Homo sapiens: one gene and its partners. The protein of the gene in region 1 interacts with the protein of each later gene in a pairwise test. Each region holds a gene or a part of one and is shown on either strand. Other genes may lie near its edges.

Evidence for each region.
Region 2: the proteins of CCDC57 (region 1) and ZBTB4 interact in binary tests that used the Homo sapiens proteins (3 or more experiments, as listed by UniProt).
Region 3: the proteins of CCDC57 (region 1) and FH interact in binary tests that used the Homo sapiens proteins (3 or more experiments, as listed by UniProt).

Annotation. Positions count from the first base shown.
Region 1 is NC_000017.11:82,167,803-82,171,451, reverse strand, and holds part of CCDC57 (coiled-coil domain-containing protein 57), read left to right. Parts: intron 1-3,649. UniProt on the Homo sapiens protein: Pleiotropic regulator of centriole duplication, mitosis, and ciliogenesis. Critical interface between centrosome and microtubule-mediated cellular processes. Centriole duplication protein required for recruitment of CEP63, CEP152, and PLK4 to the centrosome.
Region 2 is NC_000017.11:7,477,494-7,481,242, reverse strand, and holds the start of ZBTB4 (zinc finger and BTB domain-containing protein 4), read left to right. Parts: upstream 1-1,611; 5' UTR 1,612-1,787; intron 1,788-1,810; exon of another isoform or gene 1,811-2,356; intron 2,357-3,749. UniProt on the Homo sapiens protein: Transcriptional repressor with bimodal DNA-binding specificity. Represses transcription in a methyl-CpG-dependent manner.
Region 3 is NC_000001.11:241,513,152-241,516,800, reverse strand, and holds part of FH (fumarate hydratase, mitochondrial), read left to right. Parts: intron 1-3,087; coding exon 3,088-3,198; intron 3,199-3,649. UniProt on the Homo sapiens protein: Catalyzes the reversible stereospecific interconversion of fumarate to L-malate. Experiments in other species have demonstrated that specific isoforms of this protein act in defined pathways and favor one direction over the other.

The DNA of each region.
Region 1 (3,649 bases):
CCTCACTGCAGTCAGCGTTCCCTGTTTTGGTGTGAATGGAATTCCTTGTGCTCCCTCCAGAGCCCACGTGCCCTGGCTCCTCACTGCAGTCAGCCCTCCCTGTTTTGGTGTGAATGGAATTCCTGGAGCTACCTCCAGAGCCCACGTGCCCTGGCTCCTCACTGCAGTCAGCGCTCCCTGTTTTGGTGTGAATGGAATTCCTCGCGCTCCCTCCGGAGCCCACGTGCCCTGGCTCCTCACTGCAGTCAGCGCTCCCTGTTTTGGTGTGAATGGAATTCCTTGTGCTCCCTCCGGAGCCCACGTGCCCTGGCTCCTCACTGCAGTCAGCGCTCCCTGTTTTGGTGTGAATGGAATTCCTTGTGCTCCCTCCGGAGCCCACGTGCCCTGGCTGCTCACTGCAGTCAGCGCTCCCTGTTTTGGTGTGAATGGAATTCTGTGGCACCTGTGCTTCTGTCTGGCGTCTTCAGACCTACACTGTGTTTCACTTGATAATGCCAGATTCTTCTCCAAAGCATCCATCCACATCGTGCGAGGTAGCCGTGGTGCTGCATGCGCGCCAACACTTACGTGGTCAGCGGCTCCTTCTGTTCCCTCTAGTGGACACGTAGCACATCCTATTTTGGTTTAATTTGCAAATTCATGAGATTCGTGGGATTGAACATCTCTTCCTGTGTGCATTGGCGTATGATTGGCTAGGGCTGCCGTAACTCAACACCACAGCCTGAGTGGCTTAAACAACGGTTTTATTTTCTCACTTCTGGAGTCTGGATGTCAGAGATCAGGTTGCCGGCAGGGTGGGTTCCTCCTGAGGCCTCTCTGTGGCTTGCAGACGGCACCCTCTCCCCTGCGTGCTCATGTGGACTCTCCCCCTGCGTGCTCACGTGACTCCTCCCCCGCTGCATGCTCACTCCTGGTGTCTCTTCCTCTTTTTTTTTTTTTTTTTTGGGACAGAGTCTTGCTCTGTTGCCCAGGGTGGAGTGCAGTGGCATGATTTTGGCTCATTGCAGCCTCTGCCTCCCAAGTTCAAGCGATTCTCCTGCCTCAGCCTCCTGAGTAGCTGGGATTACAGGTGCATGCCACCACGCCCGGCTAATTTTTGTATTTTTAGTAGAGATGAGGTTTCACCACGTTGGTCAGGCTGGTCCCGAACTCCTGACCTCGTGATCTGCCTACCTGAGCCTCCCAAAGTGCTGGGATGACAGGCGTGAGACACCGCGCCCGACTCTTCCTCTTCTTGTAAGGACAACAGTCCAGGGCCCCAGCCTTAGGACCTCATGTAACCTTAGCTGCCTCCTCAGAGGCGCTGTCTCCAAATACAGTCATGTTCGGGGTGAGAGCTTCAACCCGTAAATTTTGGGGGGCAGAGCTCAGTCCATAGAATTGGCCTTTCGACAGCCCCTCTTTTGGAGCTCCAGGCCATGTCTTTTGCCCATTGTTTATTGGATCATCTGCCCTTTGTCATAGATTTTTTTAGGGTATTTTATGCTGAATATGAGCCTAGCGTTGGTTATATGTGTTGCAAATATCTTCTCCCAGTCTATGGCTTGCCTTTTATTCCTTCACTGGTGTCTTTGGTGAATGGAAGGTCTTAATTTCAAGACAAACTCATAGGCTAATCTATTCCATTGTGGTTAGTCCAACATCAAAAGGTTCATTCTAGCATTCTAGCTTTCTTTTTCATTATTCTAACTTCCTTTCCCAATAATGAGAAACCTGGCTCGCCCATTATCACTAACACAGTTACTTTGATCGAGTCCTCTTGGTGTAACCAATCCCCCATTGCTGCTGTGGCCCCTTCCCCTATTTGCAGGCCCCTCTCCTGCCTGGATGCCTCCCCAGCATCACCGAGCTTGACAGCCCAGCCTGGCTGCCTTCCACACAGATGCCTTCACCCTGCTGGAGCCACAGCCCCCCTTAGTGTAGGGGAGGCAGGCCCCATCTGCAGGCCTAAGGCAGGAAAAGAAAGGGAGGGGCCAGACAGGACACTCCACTGGCACAGATTGTCTCAAATAGGGGAGGTTTTTGCCGGGCGCAGTGGCTCACGCCTGTAATCCCAGCACTTTGGGAGGCCGAGGTGGGTGGATCACCTGAGGTCGGGAGTTTGAGACCAGCCTGGCCAACATGGTGAAACCCCGTCTCTACTAAAAATACAAAAAAATTAGCTGGGCGTGGTGGCAGGCACCTGTAATCCCAGCCACTTGGGAGGCTGAGGCAGGAGAATCACTTGAACCCAGGAGGCGGAGGTTGCAGTGAGCCGAGATTGCACCACTACACTCCAGCCTAGGTAACAGAGCGAGACTCCATCTCAAAAAAAATAAAGTAAAATAAAATAAGGGAGGTTTTATTTTTCTTTTCCAATGCTGATATTGTTTACTTCTTCTTGCATTATCGCCCCTAGCTAAACTCTCCGGTATGATGTTGATAATAGCTGTCTTTCTCCCTAATCCCAGAGGAAGAACTTTCAGCATTTCACTTTTTTAGGTTGAGTTTTTGCTGAAGGTTTTTTGTGGTGGGGGTAGTGGAGGGAGGTTAAGGAAGTTTCTTTCTATTCCTGTTTTAATATAGATCTTTATTTTTTAAATCACGATTCTTTGTTTTTGTTTCATATATTTTGTATCTTTGTTGTTAGATGTGTATACATTTAGGGTTTTTTTTTTTTAGGATAATTGACCCTTATATTGTTACGTAATCTTCCTCTTTGTCTGGCAACATTCTTTGTTCTGAAGTCTACCTTGTCTGATATTAATTAATCCACTCGGGCTTTCTTTTGATTAGCATTCGCGTGGTATAACTTTTTCATCCCTTTTTCTTTTTACCTACCTCTCTCTTTTATATTTGAAATGAATTTCTTGTTTTTTGAGACGGAGTCTCTGTTGCCCAGGCTGGAGTGCAGTGGCACAATCTCGGCTCACTGCAACCTCTGCCTCCTGGGTTCGAGCGATTCTCATGCCTCAGCCTCCAAAGTAGCTAGGGTTACAGGCATGTGCCACCATGCCCAGCTGGTGGCGTTTGTATTGTTAGTAGAGACAGGGTTTCACCATGTTGGCCAGGCTGGTCTCGAACTTCTGGCCTCAGGTGATCCACTTGCGCTGGCCTCCCAAAGTGCTGGAATTACAGGCGTGAGCCACTGCGCCCGGCCTAAAGACAAAAACTGTTGAAAGCACACAGAGAGAGCGATGCACAGCCCACAGGGGACAGTGACTGGAGCGGTAGTGGGTTCTCAGCAGCAGCTGTCATCAGATTTCTCCTCAGAAGGAAGTGGCATAATATTTTTCAAGTACTGAAAGCAAAAAACTGTCAACCCATAATTATACATTCAGTAAAAATATTCTTCAGGAATGAGAGTGAATAAAGACATTCTCAGATGAAGGAAAAGTTTGTCACCAGCAGACTGGATCTAAAAGAACTGATAAAGGAGGTACTTTAGACACAACAGAAGGAAGGAAACTAGGAATGTCAGGAGTGAAGGAAAACTAATGGCAAGGATGAATATGATAGACATTCTTTCACACTTAACTCTTAAAATTACGTTGACAGGCCGGGCGCCGTGGCTCATGCCTGTCATCCCAGCACTTTGGGAGGCCAAGGCAGGTGGATCACCTGAGGTCAGTAGTTGAAGGCCAGCCTGGCCAACATGGCGAAACCCCGT
Region 2 (3,749 bases), about 75 Mb from region 1:
TTCTCCTGCCTCAGCCTCCCAAGTAGCTGGGATTACAAGAATGTGCCACTACACCTGGCTAATTTTTTTTTTTTTTTTTGGGACGGAGTTTTGCTCTTCTTGCCCAGGCTGGAGTGCAGTGGTGCGTGCAATCTCGGCTCACCGCAACCTCCACCTCCTGGGTTCAAGCAATTCTCCTACCTCATCCTCCCAAGTACCTGGGATTACAGGCATGTGCCACCACACCCCGCTAATTTTTTATTTTTCGTAGAGATGGGGTTTCTCCATGTTGGCCATGCTGGTCTTGAACTCCTTACCTCAAGTGATCCACCCCACCACCCCCCGCCTCCCAAAGTGGTGGAATTACAGGCATGAGCCACCGTGCCCAGCCCAACTCTGCTTCTTTTCTATTTATGTCTCCATGACTCCAAAGTTTGTCTGATTCTTTTATTCTTTTTATGGCTAGCTCTGTGGCTTTACATTAATTTGTTTATTTATATCTTGCATGGTTTCAGAGAGGTTTTTTTGTTGTTGTTTTTTTTTTGAGACGGAGTCTGTCTCTGTCGCCCAGGCTGGAGTGCAGTGGCGAGATCTCGGCTCACTGCAAGCTCCGCCTCCCAGGTTCACGCCATTCTCCTGCCTCAGCCTCCCGAGTAGCTGGGACCACAGGCGCCCGCCACCACGCCCGGCTAATTTTTTTGTATTTTTAGTAGAGACAGGGTTTCACCGTGTTAGCCAGGATGGTCTCGATCTCCTGACCTCGTGATCCGCCCACCTCGGCCTCCCAAAGTGCTGGGATTACAGGCGTGAGCCACCGCGCCCAGCCTCAGAGAGGTTTTAAGGCAAGGAGCTGTGAACCCTGGCTCCTCCATCTCCTTAGTTTTTAATTTTCCAGCACCAGGGAGGAGTTCTTGGGATTGTCCCTGTGGAGTTTCAGGAATGTGTTTTTTCTGTGTGTGCTTCCACCTGGTGTTTTGTTGATGCTGTCCCCAGAGGCCGACACCAAGGCCTCTGCATTTATGTTCAAGTATACAGATGTGGATCTATCTGCTGGTGGGGACAAAGTACCCAGCCAGCTTCATGTGTTCATTTGCGCTGGTGGTCGTTCGTGTGTGCCCCGTATGCAGGGCCAGGGCCTTCTTTTTCCGCGGCCTGCTGAGCTTTCCTGCGCATTCCTGGAGAGGGTGTGTGTGTGTGTCCAGGGCTGGCCCTCTTTGAGTGTGCCGACCCTGGGTCTGTGAGTCCCACCGGGCCTGATTATGAGTCTGCCATGTCATGTCTGCACCCTGAGAGCCTGTGTGTTATGCTTTCAGGCAGTGTGCACCGCTGAGTGAAGGGCGTGCAGGAGGAAGGGCGGAGGGAGCCCTTTCCCTGGGGGTCGGTGGTCTTGCGCCCCTGCCGGGATGCTGCAGCCCGGCCCGCGCCCCGCTCGGTGTCCACCCGCCCGGTGGCCCAGCGCGGCGCAGTGTCATGCCGCGGGGGTCAGTCCTGGGGAAGGCCGTCGGGCGCTCGGAGCTTTGTGTCGGTGTCGGCTGCGCTGCGCCGGCCTCCTCTCGGCGGCGGCGGCGGCGGCGCTGGGGGGGGACTGTTTCCGGGGGTGGGGGTGGGGGTAGGACCGGGGCGGGGGGAGCCGATGATGTCAGCGGCGGCGGCGGCGGCGGCAGCGGGGCCGGGCCGGGGCCAGGCGCTGGGGGGGCCAGGGCCGGAGCTGGAGCCGGAGCCGGAGCTGGAGGCGGGCAAAACCGGAGCGGCCGGGGGCGGCCACGGTGATGAGCCGGGCCTGGCGGACGCGGCGCCATCGCAGTCAGGTGGGCCCTGGGGCGAACTGGGCAGGGCCAGGGCGGACCGGAGCCAACTGCCAGGCCCCCTCTCCGCTGCCCGGCGCTGCGGGAGCCCCGACCGCGCCCCGCGCCCAGACCGCTCTCCTTTGGGGTTGACCTGGGGGCGCAGGGGTCGGGGGCTGAGCCTGGCCCCGCCCCCGGGCGCGCACGACGCTGGGGGGCGACTAAGGGGGCCCTGGTATGGCGTCCGAGCGAGGGGCGGCCGTGGGACGCGATCGCCTGGGGCCGTGGAAGGGGAGGTGCTCACTCCCTCTTTGAAGGGTTAATTCTGCAGCCTAATGGCCCCCTCCCCCCGTGGGGCAGATTGGGGGTGGGGTGGGGCGGGTGTGAGCCCGGGCAAGCGCTGCAAGCTGCTGGGAGGGTGATGGCGTAGGAGCCAGGCAGAGAGGGGGAGGGGTGGGCCGCCGAGCGCCCCAGAGTTGGGGTGTGCGGGGTGCGCAGGGCGAGCTGGGGCCCCGGAACCGCCGCGCCGTCGGGGCAGGGTTGTGGCTGTGAGTCTTGGAGATCGTGTGTCTTGTGCTGTGTGGTGGGGCAAGGTAAACCTCTCCTGGGCACCACCGTTTGCTGGCAGCCAGGGGTCTGGGTAGGGCCCTCCCTGGGCCATGGAGATAGAAAGCCAGGAAGGGTGTCCAGTGTTGTGGGGCAGAGTTACAAGACGAGCCCTGTGGCTTTGGGTGACAGATGGGTATTCTGAGCAGGGCACAGCATGCTGGGTGCAGAGTTTGTTCGATGTGGGGCTGTATGTTTTCTACAGCATGTGTTTTCTCGCATGTGTGTCTTGTGCTGCACCTATGACCTGTTTATGAACTGTTTTCTGCAGAGCTGGCATGCTGTATGTGTTGCGGAGGGTGCCAGGATGCAGTGTATGTGCCCTTTTGGAGGGGGCGGTTGTGGGCCTTTGAGTCAGAAGGCGTCACGTCTGGGTCCCATTTCTGTGGCCCTGCTGAGGTGTGGTCCAGTGGTGAAGAGGGCGATGGATGGGTTTGCGTGTCTGTGATGAGCGCGTTGCATGGGGGCTGCGCGTCTAGAACTCAGATCCCAAAGATCATGAGAGGAGCGAGGAACCCCGGGGTATGTCTCAGGGGCCTGTGGGTCAGTTGGCACTGGTGTGAGGGGCTCGAGGTGGAATGCGCCAGTTGTGTTTATGGGATCATGGGCAGCCAAGCGAGGGGAAGGTTGTGTGTTTGCAACATTCTCCACAGGATTCTTTTGTGACGTTGTTTGTAGGAGCCTGTCTGGGCTGCTGAGCTGGGAGGCAAACTGGTCAGAAAACACATGTGGGGAGGGAGGTGGCGTGACAAGGGCAGTGTGGGCCTCAGACCCAAGAGGCCAGCCGCAAGCAGGCTGTGTGTGCGTGCCTGCCGTCTGTGTGCTTAAGTGGCGGTGGGGCTGCGGAGGGGATTTGGTATGAGGAAGGCGGGAGATAAATGCAGGGTAGCGCATGGAGGCCGGCGGGAGGCATGGGTGTTGTCAGATGGCCCAGCTAATCTTTGCAGGGTCTGTATGTTTGCCCCTCATGAGCCTGCCCAGCGTGTCAGGGTCACCCGGAGGAGAGGCTGGGCGGCCACAAGGGAAGTAAGCTTAGACAGAGAGGCTCCTTGGCCATGTTTATGTAAAGGCTGGGTGTGACTCTTGTCACTAAAATGGAAAAAAGAAACGTGAAGTTTTCAGCCTCCTCCTGCTTCACCCTCTCCCTCTCTCTGCCCCCCTTGTGGGTATCTCTGACGCACACTGGGCCCCACTCCTGCGACGGTGGAAGGGCCTCAGAACAGAATTCGCTCACTAGGCAGATTCCTCAGAACAGGTTTTCCTCACCTTTGGGGACTGGGCCCTTCTAGGGGTGTGTGTGCAAGTGCATTCCAAGCCTGCACACCACTGTCTACTGTGCCCGGCCCCACTGGAAGGATGTGTGTACGTGGGGGAAGGGAG
Region 3 (3,649 bases), on another chromosome or scaffold:
CGCGCCTGTAGTCCCAATTACTCTGGAGGCTGAGACAGGAGAATTGCTTGAACCCGGGAGGCGGAGGTTGCAGTGAGCTGAGATCGCACCACTGCACTCCAGCCTGGCGACAGAGTGAGACTCCGTCTCAAAAAAAAAAAAATTAATTTAATTTTAAGTTCCGGGATACACATGCAGGATATGCAGTTTTGTTGCATAGGTAAATGTGTGCCATGGTGGTTTGCTGCACCTCTCAACCCATCACCTAGATATTAAAACCCGGCATTAGCTATTTTTTCTGCTGCTCCCCCTCCGCCCACAGGCCCCTGTGTGCTTTGTTCCCCTCCTTGTGTCCATATGTTCTCATTGTTCAGCTCCCACTTACAAGTGAGAACATGCGGGTTTGGTTTTCTGTTCCTCTGTTAGTATGCTGAGGGTCACAGCTTCTAGCTCCATCCATATCTCTGCAAAGGACATGATCTCATTCTTTTTTATGGTTGCATAATATTCCATGGTGGATATATACAACTTTTTCTTTATCCTTTATTGATGGACATTTGGGTTGATTTCATGTCTTTGCTATTGTGAATAGTTATTTTGGATTTTTATTTGGCAGAACTAAATGATTGTCTTTTCACTCTTGCTGGGTATTTACAGATTTTTACTAGGGTTCTACAGTTTGTAAATATTTTTATTTCAATACTCATTCTTTTTTCCCCCACTAATTTAAAACTGAGATTTTTTAAAATTACACTTTGTATTTTGGTTTCAGTTTCCTAAAAAGTGTATAGTACACAAACACATCAAAGTATTACTCTTAACCATGTCTGACATATAATAGATAATATATAAGTATTTATTCAATTCCATATGAATGATTAAATGATGAGAAAACTTTCTACCACATTCAATTAAATTTAAGATGCCATTAATTAGAAGATGCACCAATAGGCACCACTAAGAAAGAAAAATGCTACCAATTAAGGTTGTGACTTACCATTGATTACAAGATACATCTTGATTTCAGAGATGTTAAAGTGTGAAAAGAATTGAGAAATGCATAACATATTCTACGGGAGCCCAACCGGAGTATGAAAAATAGTCAATGCAGGATAGGCTAGTAAGCCTAGAAGTAGATAGGCTTCATCCTGTGAGATATTGTTTAACACTTATCTTATAAATATGCTTTTATTTTCAATAATTTTAAGTCATTCCTAAGCCTTCAAGACTGCCTCTTGACAGGTATATAGAACTTTACAACAGGCAGCTGAATCTTTGATGAGAATATCTTTGTCATTGCCATCTACAGCCTTCTTGGTGGTGAGGTAAACATAGTTTGACTACGTGGTTAGGTGAAAAAGGGTAGTGACCAATCCTAAAATAATCTCATATTATTCAACTCCAGAGACTAAGGAGGAGGTCAGCCCCAGCTAGTGTTGGTGGGAGTGAGCATGGCTGCCGTTTTCATTGATCTGTGTCACCAGCATGTTTTGTGGTTCTGGTGGGGCATGGTTCCTGCTGCTGCTGCTCCAGAGACAGCACAGCCATTGGGATTGCACACCTGTGAAAGGCAGACACCTGGGGTCTCGATTTTGTCATACTTTCTGAACTTTATTATGTGTAAAACAGTCTGTATGTACTCTAAACTGAGTAGTATGATTAAACTCAACCCTTTTTACTTGAGGTCCAGAGGAAAACAAAGCTAAAAAGATTATGAACATCTAATGTGAATAAATTAAGAATAAAGTGACCTGTCTTTTCTCTCTAGTGATACATTTTGCCATTTTATGGTGTTCGTTGAACCTCTTTCTGCTGTGAATGACCCTTTTTTATTTTTATGGTCCATAAACACTGGGGGTCATTCACTCCATTCAGATGGCCAGCGTTGATTGGCATTCACCTTTGCCCTTGGTAGTGGTTCAGCCCACTACCTCAGTGTTTGTTACTGTGGAGATTTAAATTCCCATTTGTTTTTGTGTTTAAAGTTTTTAAGTTTCTAATCCTGTGTGCCATCTGTCCTCATTTCGTTTGAGTCAAACGTTTCTAATGTTTTAATTTTAGTTACTTAAAATTGAAATTTCAAATTTTCTGGTTTTCCTTTTCTATTTGACCCTCAGCTTATACTTACTCTGGTCCAGGTTTATGTTTTTAATGTGTCTTATTTCTTACTTTTCTTGGCTTTTTCTACTTTGATTCCAGAGATAGCAGGTTCTCTCTTATACATTCATCATTCTCTTCCTTTCTTCCCTTTCTCCCTTCTACTCTTTCCCCATTCAAACCTGGTGTGGGATCTATACAACAATCTGTATTATTAATTTTGACAAGAACTCACAATTCACTTGTCTTATAAAAACTAGGTTTTCATTTCAGTTTATCCTTTTCAAGCTTGGTGAGGTGATTTGGGATAGACAATGAAAATATCTGCATTAATGGGGTTTTATATATATCGGAAGCTGTCACCTTTAGGTCTGGAGAATCTTGGGTTTAAAAAAATAATTCTTCTGAGAGAAATGTCCAGGGAGTTACTGAGTATTAAGGCTTTACTAGCTAAGTAGAATAGATTGCTTTTTGGCCTTGGGGTGAAATGATAACCCAGTCAGTCACTGGTAGTCTCATACTGATTGGCAGTTAAATATATCCCTTATTTATTTATTTTTTTAAGAGGGGAAGGAAACAATTATAATGTAACGTGGGATCCAGTAAGAGAAAATAATGGTTCTTGCTGGTGAAAAGATTGAGTACTAAATTTGTTTTTATTTATAGTATATGAAATAAACACATATAATTTATTGTGTGTATTTGTGCATAGGATTGTATTCGTGTGAATATGTGTGTATATGTATGTGGGAGACGTACACACATATATATATGAAGAGTCAATGTATTTGTTTTTATTTGGTTCCTTAAACAAATAGATCTATGATAATGTTGATTCTTGGTTCATGAATTCCTGTCTATAATCTTTCTCTATAACCGAAACATTTTAGAGCTATAGTGTTACTGTTTTATTGTTATTGTTTTATGTATAGCTTTTGCATCTGCCAAAATAATAAACTTCCATGCTTAAGTAAAATTGTAAATTTGAAATATTTTTCTGATTAATTTTAGACCCCAGTTATTAAAGCTTTTGGCATCTTGAAGCGAGCGGCCGCTGAAGTAAACCAGGATTATGGTCTTGATCCAAAGATTGCTAATGCAATAATGAAGGCAGCAGATGAGGTAGGAGGTGATAAGTGTGTTTGCTTAATAACCTCAGACCCATGCCATACTCTGGATGACGATATGCTCTGGCAGAAGGAAAGGGGAACTGTGAATTCTTGAATTAATGAATTTCAGGGGAGGGTGGTAGCATTATTTTTAGTGGTGATATTAATATGGTGCTTAAAACGTTACATTGTGACAAAATTTCTGGATGATTTTATACCTTTTGTTTTTAAGCCTTTTGACTTTCCTTAATTTATATAGTTTTAAGAAAATTTTTTGAAAAGATATCATTTGAACTTTACTTGATTTTTTATTTTATATATAAATCTTTTTAAAACCAGTTGATTATTTGATAATGCATATTGAGAATGTAATTTTACTAATATGCTAATAACATTGTCTTAAAGAAGCAATCAGAGGTAACAGAACTGTATATATAGTGTTGTTAATTACAGCACTATTTATA